Linked DNA regions of Homo sapiens. The protein of the gene in region 1 interacts with the protein of each later gene in a pairwise test. Each region holds a gene or a part of one and is shown on either strand. Other genes may lie near its edges.

Region 1 (5,364 bases):
GGACAATGGTTGTTCATGCACTGAATGCCACTGAGGAACATGAAAACTTTCACCTATTGCATCTAATCATCTCCTGGGATGCAATTTGTGGGATAGGGCAATCAGACTGATAGCTGACTTTGCACAGATTCAATATGTAAGATGAATATAACAGGCTGCCATCTAGTGCTCCTGAGTACAAATGATTTTCACTAGTTCACCTTCCTGGGTACCTAAGACAGCATTGGCTGCTGCTGCTGTTGCTGTTTTGGTATTATAATTGGATAGATGAGAAATCATTTTTTTCCAGTGTTTTCATTTGAAACCTCCATTTCTGCTAACCACACACACACAGACACACACACGGAAATTCTTAAGAGCTGTAGGTCCATCATCCAAGGACTTAAGTGCTATATGAGAAGAAAAGCATTGAGGTTGCAGTGAGCTGAGATTGCGCCACTGCACTCCAGCCTGGGCCACAGAGCAATACTTCATCTCAAAAAAAAAAAAAAATTAAAAAAGTAAATGAAACATTAAAAACTGCAGAAGTTTGTCAGTGATTTAGAGATCAGTGATTTTGAGATGGAAAAGCTTAAGAATGGCTGGCTATGGCCATTCTAAGGTCATTCACCTGGAGTCTTCCACCACTGGCAACCCTGCCAATTCTAGTGGCTGAGCTGCCACGTGCACCCCCTGAAGACTGGCTCATCCAGGGTCCACTGCCACCATTTACCTCCCCCCATCAGTTTAACAGCAGATTTGCCAGCAGAAACCTTACAAGTCAGGAGAGAATGGGATGATACATTCCAAGTGCTAAAAGGAAAAAACAAACAAACAGACAAACAAAACCCAAAAAACTCCTGCCAAGAGTATTATACCTAGCAAAGCTATTTTTCCAAAATGAAGGAGAAATAGTCTTCTCAAGACAGGCAAACACTGAGGGAATTTATCACCACTAGACTGCCTTATAAGAAATGCTTAAAGAACTCCTACATCTGAATGCAAAAGCACGGTAACTACCATTATGGAAACGTGAAAGAATAAAACTCACTGGTAGAGCAGATACAGAAAGGAATCAAACCTTATAATTACAAAAATCTACCAACCATGAAAATAAGAGGGGAAGAAAGGGGAACAAAGATTATACAAAACAACCAGGAAACAGTTAACAAAATGACAGGAGTAAATCCACACCTATCAATAACAATGTTGAATATAAACACTTTAAATTCCCCAATTAAAGATTTAGAGTGGCTGAATGAATAAAAAAAAGTTTAAAGACTCAACTATATATACTGACTACAAGAAACTCACTTCACCTGTAAAGATACAGATAGGCTGAAAGTAAAGGGATAGAAAAGGATGTTCATGCAAATGGAAACCATAAATGAGCAGGAATAGCTATACTTATGCTAGATAAAATAGGCTTTAAATAAAAAACTATAAAAAGAGACAAGGTCATTATATAATGGTAAAGAGATCAATTCAGCAAGAGGAAATAACAACTGTAAATATATATGCACCCAACACCAGAGCATCCATATATATATATATCTAAACAAATAATATTAGAGCTAAAGGGAGAGATAAACCCTAATGTAATAATAGCTGGGGACTTCAACACCACACTCCCAGCACTGGACAGATCATCTAGACAGAAAATCAACAAAGAAATATCAGACTTAAACTGTACTGTAGATCAAATGGATCTAGCAGACATTTACAGAACATCACATCCAACAGCTGCAAAATACACGTTTTTCTTATCTTGAAGTGTTCTTCAGGATAAACCATATGTTAGGCTACAAAACAAGTCTCAACAAATTTTTAAAGATCAAAATAACATCAAATATTTTTTCAGACCACAGCAGAATAAAACTAGAAATCAGTAACAGGAAGGACTTTGGAAACTGTGCAAATACACAGAAATTAAATAATATGCTCTGGAACAACCAATAGGTCAATGAAAAAATTAAGAAGGAAATTTAAAAATTTCTTGAAACAAATGAAAACAGAAACACAACATACCAAAACCTATGGGATACAGCAAAAGCATCACTAACAGGGAAGTTTATAGCAATAAATGCCTCCATCAAAAAGTAGAAATGTTTCAAATAAACAACCTAACACTGCACCTCAGGGAACTCGAAAAGCAAGAACAAACTAAACCCAAAATCAGAAGGAAATAAATAAAAAGATCAGAGCAGAGCTAAGTGAAATAGAGACTTAAAAACAAACAAAAAAACACAAAAGAAGAACTAAATGAAAAGTTGGTTTCTTGAAAACAAAATCAAGAAACCACAAGTTAGAAAAAAGACCCAATTAAGGTAAAAAACAAAAAAGGAGACATTACAACTGATACCACGGACATAGTCATATCATTAGAGATTATTATGAAACAACTGTATGCCAAGAAATTGGAAAAGCTACAGGAAATGGATACATTCCTGAGCCCCTATAATCTATCGAGATTGAGCCAAGAAGTAATAGAAAACTTGAACAGACCAATAACAAGTAACAAGATTGAACTGGTAATAAAAAGTCTCCCAACAAAGAAATGTCCAGGACCACATGGCTTCATTGCTAAATTCTGCCAAACAGTTAAAGAAGAATTAAGACCAATTCTCAAACTGTTCCGAAATATTGAAGATGAGAGAGTTCTTCCAAACTCATTCTACAAGGCTAGCATTACCCTTATACAACAACAAACAGACAAAGGCTCATTAAACAACAACAACAACAAAACCTACAGGCCAATGTATTCTACAAAACAATCCTTAACAAAATACCAGCAAACCAAATCCAAGAGTACATCAAAAAGATTATACATCATGAACAAGTGGGATTTATCCTAGGGATGCAAGGATGGTGCAGCATACACAAATCAATAAATGTGTTACATCATATAAACAGAAGGAAGGAAAAAAACCATATGATCATCTCAGTAAATGAGAAAAAGCATTTGGTAAAATTGAACACCCCTTCATGGTAACACCTCCCAAAAAGTTAGGGGTAGAAGGACTATTTCTCAGTACAGTAAAGGCCATATATGTCAAACTCACAGCTAATATCATACTGAACAGGGAAAAGTGAAAAGCTTTTCCCTCAAAGAACTGGAATGAAATAGGAATGCCCACTCTTACCAGTCTTGTTCAACATAGTATTAGAAATCCTAGCCAGAGCAGTTAGGCAAGAAAAAGAAATAAAGGGCATTGGAGGCCAGGCACGGTGGCTCACACTTGTAATTCCAGGACTTTGGGAGGCCGAGGCAGGCGGATCACTTGAGGTCAGGAGTTCGAGACCAGCCTGACCGACATGGTGAAACCCCATTTCTACTAAAAATACAAAAATTGTCATGGTGCACACCTGTAATCCCAACTGCGTGGGAGGCTGAGGCAGGAGGATTGTTTGAGCCTGGGAGGTGGAGGTTGCAATGAACCAAGATGGTGCCACTGCACTCCAGCCTGAGTGACAGCATGAGACAAAAGAAAATTAGGCACAGTAGTGCATGCCTATAGCCCCAGTTACTTGGGAGACTGAGGCTGAAGGATCCCTTGAGCCCAGTAATTCAAGGCAGCAGTGAGCCATGATTGTGCTACTGCACTCCAGCCTGGGCAACAAAGTGAGTCCCTGTCTCTTTAAAAAAAAAAAAGTGGGCGGGGGAGCTTGGGGGGAAACTTGTATTTCTCAAAAAATACCTACAAGTGCTAACAAGTATATGAAAAAGTATTCAACATAACTAATCAGGGAAATGCAAATCAAAACCACAATGAAATGTGGTTTGGGGACAGTTTGGGAAATTGGAGTGATATTTATCCCAATTAGAATGTCTATTATCAGAAAGACAAAAAATAAATTTTGGCAAGGATGTAGAAAGAAAAGGGAACTCATATACTTTTGGTAGGAATGCAAATTATTACAGCCTTTATAGAAACAGTATGGAAGTTCCTCAGAAAACTAAAAATAGAACTACTGTAAGATCCAGCAATCTTCCCTACTAGGTATTTATCCAAAGGAAAAGAAACCAGCATATCAAAGAGTTATCTGCGCCCCCATGCTTATTGTAGCACTATTAATAGCCAAGGTATGGAATCAACGTCAGTGTCCATCAACAGATGGATGGATAAAGAAAATGTGGTATATATCCACCATAGAATACTATTCAGCCATAATAAAGAATGTAATCCTGTCATTTGTGGGAACATGGATGAGCCTGGAGGACATTGTTATGTAAAATAAGTCATACACAGAAAGATAAATACTGCATGTTCTGTTGCTCATGTGGGAGCTAAAAAATGGGCTCATAGAAGTAAAGAGTAGAATTATGGTTACTGGAGGCTGAGGAGGGGACAGGGAAAGGCATAAGAAGAGGAGATTTAAGGGATTGATTAATGAATACAAAATTATAACTAGATCGGAGGCATAAATTCTAGTGTTCTGTGGCACTGTAGGATGACTATAGTTAATAATTTATTGTATATTTTCAAGTAGCTGGAAGAGAGGATATTTGAATGGTCCCAGCAGTATGAAATGATAAATGTTTGAGGTGATGCATATGCTAATTACCCTGATTTGATCATTACACATTGTATATGTACAAAAATATCACTTTGTACTTCATAAATATGTACAATTATTAGTATCAATTTTAAGACAGATGGATAAAAACAACTTGAATCATAGTAATGAAAGAATACTTTGGCAGAATGAAAGTGTCAAAATTGTATAGCATATACACGTATGGGTGTTTGTGTGTGTGTGTGTGTGTGTGTGTGTGTGTGAGATATTTCTAAGGAGAGTTAATAAACGTTTAAGTGTCTTGTATGTGCCTACTTCTTCGCTTGAAAATAATACAGGAAAATCAAACAAATTGAGAGTCAAAAAAATTGCCTCAATGAGCAGAAAATGTAGAAAACTGACTATAGAGATATAGAAGAACAAATGACCAAATCTGTGAAGAGTTGAGAAGAAACTTTAATCCCGATAATCACTTAAGGAAGACACTAATACTTGATTTAGAAACAGAACTGATCTATTATTTGGAAATTAGTTTTTAACTCTTCATAAATATAAATCTATAGTTTTGTTCTATCTGACTTTTCTCTACCTTGGATTACCATTGTTATAGCCTTTGACCAGTTCCTAAAAGGTCTGGTCACAGAGTTTAAGAGTGGCAGGGTACTTACATTCCCCCAGCCCTGGGAGCAAGAGGACAGCGAGACTTCAAGCCTTCACACCTTAGCACAAAGTGTGTCAGTTCCCACACATCACTCCTGTGAGAACTCTAGGACCCAGCATACTAGGAATATCTTATGGATCAGAGCTGTCACCACAACGGTATCCATTATGGTAATGTGGAAATCATAATTGGCTTGTGAGGTTAGG
Region 2 (5,364 bases), on another chromosome or scaffold:
GAACCATGAGAAAATTATTTCATAGCGCCAGAGTAGGGATAACCTTATTTTGACGTAAGTCCCAGGGGCTATGAAAAAGTGATAAACTGTTAAATGAGAGAAAAGATACACGCCAGCCACGGTGGTTCATGACTGTAATCCCAGTACTTTGTGAGGCCAAGGTGGGCAGATCACTTGAGATCAGGAGTTCAAGACCAGCCTTGCCAAATTGGGGAAACTCCATCTCTACTAAAAATAAAAAAAAAAATTAGCTGGCTGTTGTGGTGAATGCCTGTAGTCCCAGCTACTTGGGAGGCTGAGGCAGTAGAATCACTTGAACCAGGGAGGTGGAGGTTGCAGTGAGACAAGATTGTGTCACTGCACTCCAGCCTGAGCAACAGAGACTCCATTCCCTCCCCCCATCAAAAAAGATACAGAATAGTGTCTACAGTAGATGGTGTGCTCCTATATAATTTTTTAAGATGCTTAAAATCAGCCCAGAAAGCATACATTAAAAAAAATAATAACCTGGCAACGTGTGGGGAGAAGTAAATGGCATTGGGCCATAGGAGTGAATTATGTTTTATAGTTTTCAAATTCTGAACCAGATAATTGTAGACGGTATGAAAATTTTAAATAGCCACTGCAAAAGAAGAAAGATTAAGCAGAGAATTCAGCTCCTTTGCTTGATCTTAAATGTTTATAAACGTTTTCCAGTGGGGCCTCTAGTGTTTTCTAAGTATAAAATCACTATCTGCCAAAATGATACATTTACTACCACATTTCAAATTGCCTGACTCTCGTGTTTTTTTGGCTGCATAAATGTCTTCTTTTGAGAAGTGTCTGTTCATGTCCTTCGCCCACTTTTTGATGGAGTTGTTTTTTTCTTGTAAATTTGTTTGACTTCATTGTAGATTCTGGATATTAGCCCTCTGTCAGATGAGTAGGTTGCGAAAATTTTCTCCCATTTTGTACGTTGCCTGTTCACTCTGATGGTAGTTTCTTTTGCTGTGCAGAAGCTCTTTAGTTTAATTAGATCCCATTTGTCAATTTTGGCTTTTGTTGCCATTGCTTTTGGTGTTTTAGACATGAAGTCCTTGCCCATGTCTATGTCTTGAATGGTAATGCCTCGGTTTTCTTCTAGGGTTTTTATGGTTTTAGGTCTAACGTTTAAGTCTTTATTCCATCTTGAATTAATTTTTGTATAAGGTGTAAGGAAGGGATCTAGTTTCAGCTTTCTACATATGGCTAGCCAGTTTTCCCAGCACCATTTATTAAACAGGGAATCCTTTCCCCATTGCTTGTTTTTCTCAGGTTTGTCAAAGATCAGATAGTTGTAGACATGTGGCATTAACTCTGAGGGCTCTGTTCTGTTCCATTGATCTAGATCTCTGTTTTGGTACCAGTACCATGCTGTTTTGGTTACTGTAGCCTTGTAGTATAGTTTGAAGTCAAGTAGCATGATGCCTCCAGCTTTGTTCTTTTGGCTTAGGATTGACTTGGCGATGCGGGCTCCTTTTTGGTGCCATATGAACTTTAAAGTAGTTTTTTCCAATTCTGTGAAGAAAGTCATTGGTAGCTTGATGGGGATGGCATTGAATCTATAAATTATCTTGGGCAGTATGGCCATTTTCATGATATTGATTCTTCCTACCCATGAGCATGGAATGTTCTTCCCTTTCTTTGCACCCTCTTTTATTTCATTGAGCAGTGGTTTGTAGTTCTCCTTGAAGAGGTCCTTCACGTCCCTTGTAAGTTGGATTCCTAGGTATTTTCTTCTCTTTGAAGCAGTTGTGAATGGGAGTTCACTCATGATTTGGCTCTCTGTTTGTCTGTTATTGGTGTATAAGAATGCTTGTGATTTTTGTCCATTGATTTTGTATCCTGAGACTTTGCTGAAGTTGCTTATCAGCTTAAGGAGATTTTGGGCTGAGACAATGGGGTTTTCTAGATATACAATCATGTCATCTGCAAACAGGGACAATTTGACGTCTTCTTTTCCTAATTGAATAACCTTTATTTCCTTCTCCTGCCTAATTGCCCTGGCCAGAACTTCCAACACTTTATGCAGCCAAAAAACACATGAAAAAATGCTCACCATCACTGGCCATCAAAGAAATGCAAATCAAAACCACAATGAGATACCATCTCACACCAGTTAGAATGGCAATCATTAAAAAGTCAGGAAACAACAGGTGCTGGACAGGATGTGGAGAAATAGGAACACTTTTACACTGTTGGTGGGACTGTAAACTAGTTCAACCATGGTGGAAGTCAGTGTGGCGATTCCTCAGGGATCTAGAACTAGAAATACCATTTGACCCAGCCATCCCATTACTGGGTATATACCCAAAGGACTATAAATCATGCGGCTATAAAGACACATGCACATGTATGTTTATTGCGGCACTATTCACAACAGCAAAGACTTGGAACCAACCCAAATGTCCAACAATGATAGACTGGATTAAGAAAATGTGGCACATATACACCATGGAATACTATGCAGCCATAAAAAATGATGAGTTCATGTCCCTTGTAGGGACATGGATGAAATTGGAAATCATCATTCTCAGTAAACTATCGCAAAGACAAAAAAACCAAACACCGCATGTTCTCACTCATAGGTGGGAATTGAACAATGAGAACACATGGACACAGGAAGGGGAACATCACACTCTGGGGACTGTTGTGGGGTGGGGGGAGGGGGAAGGGATAGCATTAGGAGATATAACTAATGCTAAATGATGAGTTAATGGGTGCAGCACACCAGCATGGCACATGTATACATATGTAACTAACCTGCACATTGTGCACATGTACCCTAAAAGTATAATAATAATAAAAAAAAAAAAACAAATTGCATGACTCTCCTTTTTTCCCTTGCCTAATTGCACTTGCTGGTATCTCTAGCATCACGCTAAATAAGAGCAAAACATTGGATCTGGGTATTTTGTTTGTTATTCATTTGCATTTGAGTTTGCTTTCTTGCCATAGACAATATTTATTTTTATGTGAGTTTGTTAATTTTTTACCGCTGGCTTCTGGGTGTTTTCCTCAGAGTATTTATTTTTATCTATTTGGCTAAATTTTCTCTGGTACTTTTCTAATTCTCTGCTTCTCTAATTGTTTTCTGCTTTTTAAAATTCTCAAATGTTTGATCCCCGTGGAGTTTATTTTGTGATAGGGAGAAAAGGTCTCATTTGCAAATAGAAAAGGTGGAGAGTTGTGTATTTGTTCCCTTGATAATGACTGGGGCTGGGGTGTTTCCTTAGGGACGACCTGGCCCAGCTGCCCTTCCTGACCATGTGCGTGAAGGAGAGCCTGAGGTTACATCCCCCAGCTCCCTTCATCTCCCGATGCTGCACCCAGGACATTGTTCTCCCAGATGGCCGAGTCATCCCCAAAGGTGCCCACAGCCTCAGGGGGAGAAGCCTCCCGGGTAGGAAGATGGTTCCCTCAGGGGATCCTTGTCCTGACTGCCCCTTTCTCTCCCACAGGCATTACCTGCCTCATCGATATTATAGGGGTCCATCACAACCCAACTGTGTGGCCGGATCCTGAGGTGCTGCCTTCCCCATTCACCACCACCACCCCCATCCTCTACTTTTGTGTGTGTGTGTGTGAATTCCAAGGTTCCTAGTGGAGGGGGCAGGGTTTTGATGAGGAAAATCCAACATCACCTCACCCCAAAACACACACAAGTGTCTCTCCAAGGCTGCTGGACATAGGAAATCCCACTGGCAAACCTTCTTTGTCTCACCTGCAGGTCTACGACCCCTTCCGCTTTGACCCAGAGAACAGCAAGGGGAGGTCACCTCTGGCTTTTATTCCTTTCTCCGCAGGGCCCAGGTAAGAGCGCCCTGTGTCTGAGGCAGGGATGGGATGATGGGTGCGGGAGTTAAAAAAAGGGGGACGTTGCAGATGGTCCCAGTTCCAGCTCTCCTTCCCTCCATTCCTTCACAGTTTATGGGAAAACGTCCATAGAATGGGGATGAGTAGGTCCTAGAGGGGTCCGCGGAGTGCTCAAAATCCCCTTCTCCATCTGCTGGTCTGAGCTGGGAGCTGGAGTCAGGCCCAGTCTCCGGGACATACAAGCCCACATGGGAGTCCCAGGCACGCTTAGTCTTTCTCTCTCTCTCTCAGGCTGAGCTGGGTGCAGTTGGGGGTCCCAGGCCAGGTTCCTGGGTTGATGGGACCCAAATGCGGGTCTTGGGCACAGTCACAGTCCCCACTCCCGCCTGCAGGAACTGCATCGGGCAGGCGTTCGCCATGGCGGAGATGAAAGTGGTCCTGGCGTTGATGCTGCTGCACTTCCGGTTCCTGCCAGACCACACTGAGCCCCGCAGGAAGCTGGAATTGATCATGCGCGCCGAGGGCGGGCTTTGGCTGCGGGTGGAGCCCCTGAATGTAAGCTTGCAGTGACTTTCTGACCCATCCACCTGTTTTTTTGCAGATTGTCATGAATAAAACGGTGCTGTCACCTCTGCCTGGGCCTCACTGACAGCCTGCAGGGGGCTCTTGGGGACTGGGAGGCTTCAGGGAAGGGGCCTAACCTGGGTGGGTTAGGCGGGATGTTTTCCCTGAAACCAAGAACCTGACTGCCTCTTTGGCTGAGCATAGGGCCTCCATGCTTATAGCAGGGTCTCTCAGAGCCCAAGTATGGACTTTATCCTGTGGACAATGTGGAGCCATGGGAGGTTTTTGAGCAGGAGAGGGACCAGGATTAAGAACGGATTTAAGAGGTACGACTGAGGCTAAGTGAGAAGCAACCATAGGGGCAGATCCTTTCTTTTGGTCTGGGAGTGTCCCAAGACCGAGGTCCCTGGCCAGTTCAGAACACAAGGATAGAAGGGTGCAGCTTATACCCTGGCAGGCTCTCAGGAGTTCTGTTTCCTTTCTTGCTAATGTCCCACCCTATGTCTCCCCCTTCCAGTTGATCGCTTTTGTGACCCCTTTCCCTAACTTCAGGCAGCTCCTATTTTTCCTCTTTTGAGCCCTCTGACTCTGCCCAGGCTGCTTGTCCATCAGCTGCTATCTGAATCCTCCCCCTACTCTCTTCTGCTATGTGCCAGGCACTCTCACAAGTGTCAGGGGTTGGGCACGTCTTCACCCTTTCACCTCTAGATTCCTCCTTCATTCCCATCACTGACCCATCTTGGGGTGGGGTGCAGTCAGGAACATCCTGTTTGACCCTTGAGATTCAAAGACAGATGACTGGAAACAGAACACCATCCCAAAGGTATGGGATCTGGAGCCAGACTGTTGGGCTGAAGTCTCATCTTTGCTGTGTGACTTGAGTAAGTTAATTCCCCTCTATGCACTTCAGTTTCCTCAAACATATAATGTGGGCAACAACACTACCTAACTCAGGGTTGTCCTGAG

What was found.
Region 2: the proteins of TIMMDC1 (region 1) and CYP4F12 interact in binary tests that used the Homo sapiens proteins (3 or more experiments, as listed by UniProt).

The regions. Positions count from the first base shown.
Region 1 is NC_000003.12:119,518,077-119,523,440, forward strand, and holds part of TIMMDC1 (complex I assembly factor TIMMDC1, mitochondrial isoform 1 precursor), read left to right. Parts: intron 1-5,364.
Region 2 is NC_000019.10:15,692,682-15,698,045, forward strand, and holds the end of CYP4F12 (cytochrome P450 4F12), read left to right. Parts: intron 1-3,254; coding exon 3,255-3,388; intron 3,389-3,479; coding exon 3,480-3,544; exon of another isoform or gene 3,545-3,748; coding exon 3,749-3,831; intron 3,832-4,226; coding exon 4,227-4,404; 3' UTR 4,405-4,493; downstream 4,494-5,364. UniProt on the Homo sapiens protein: A cytochrome P450 monooxygenase involved in the metabolism of endogenous polyunsaturated fatty acids (PUFAs).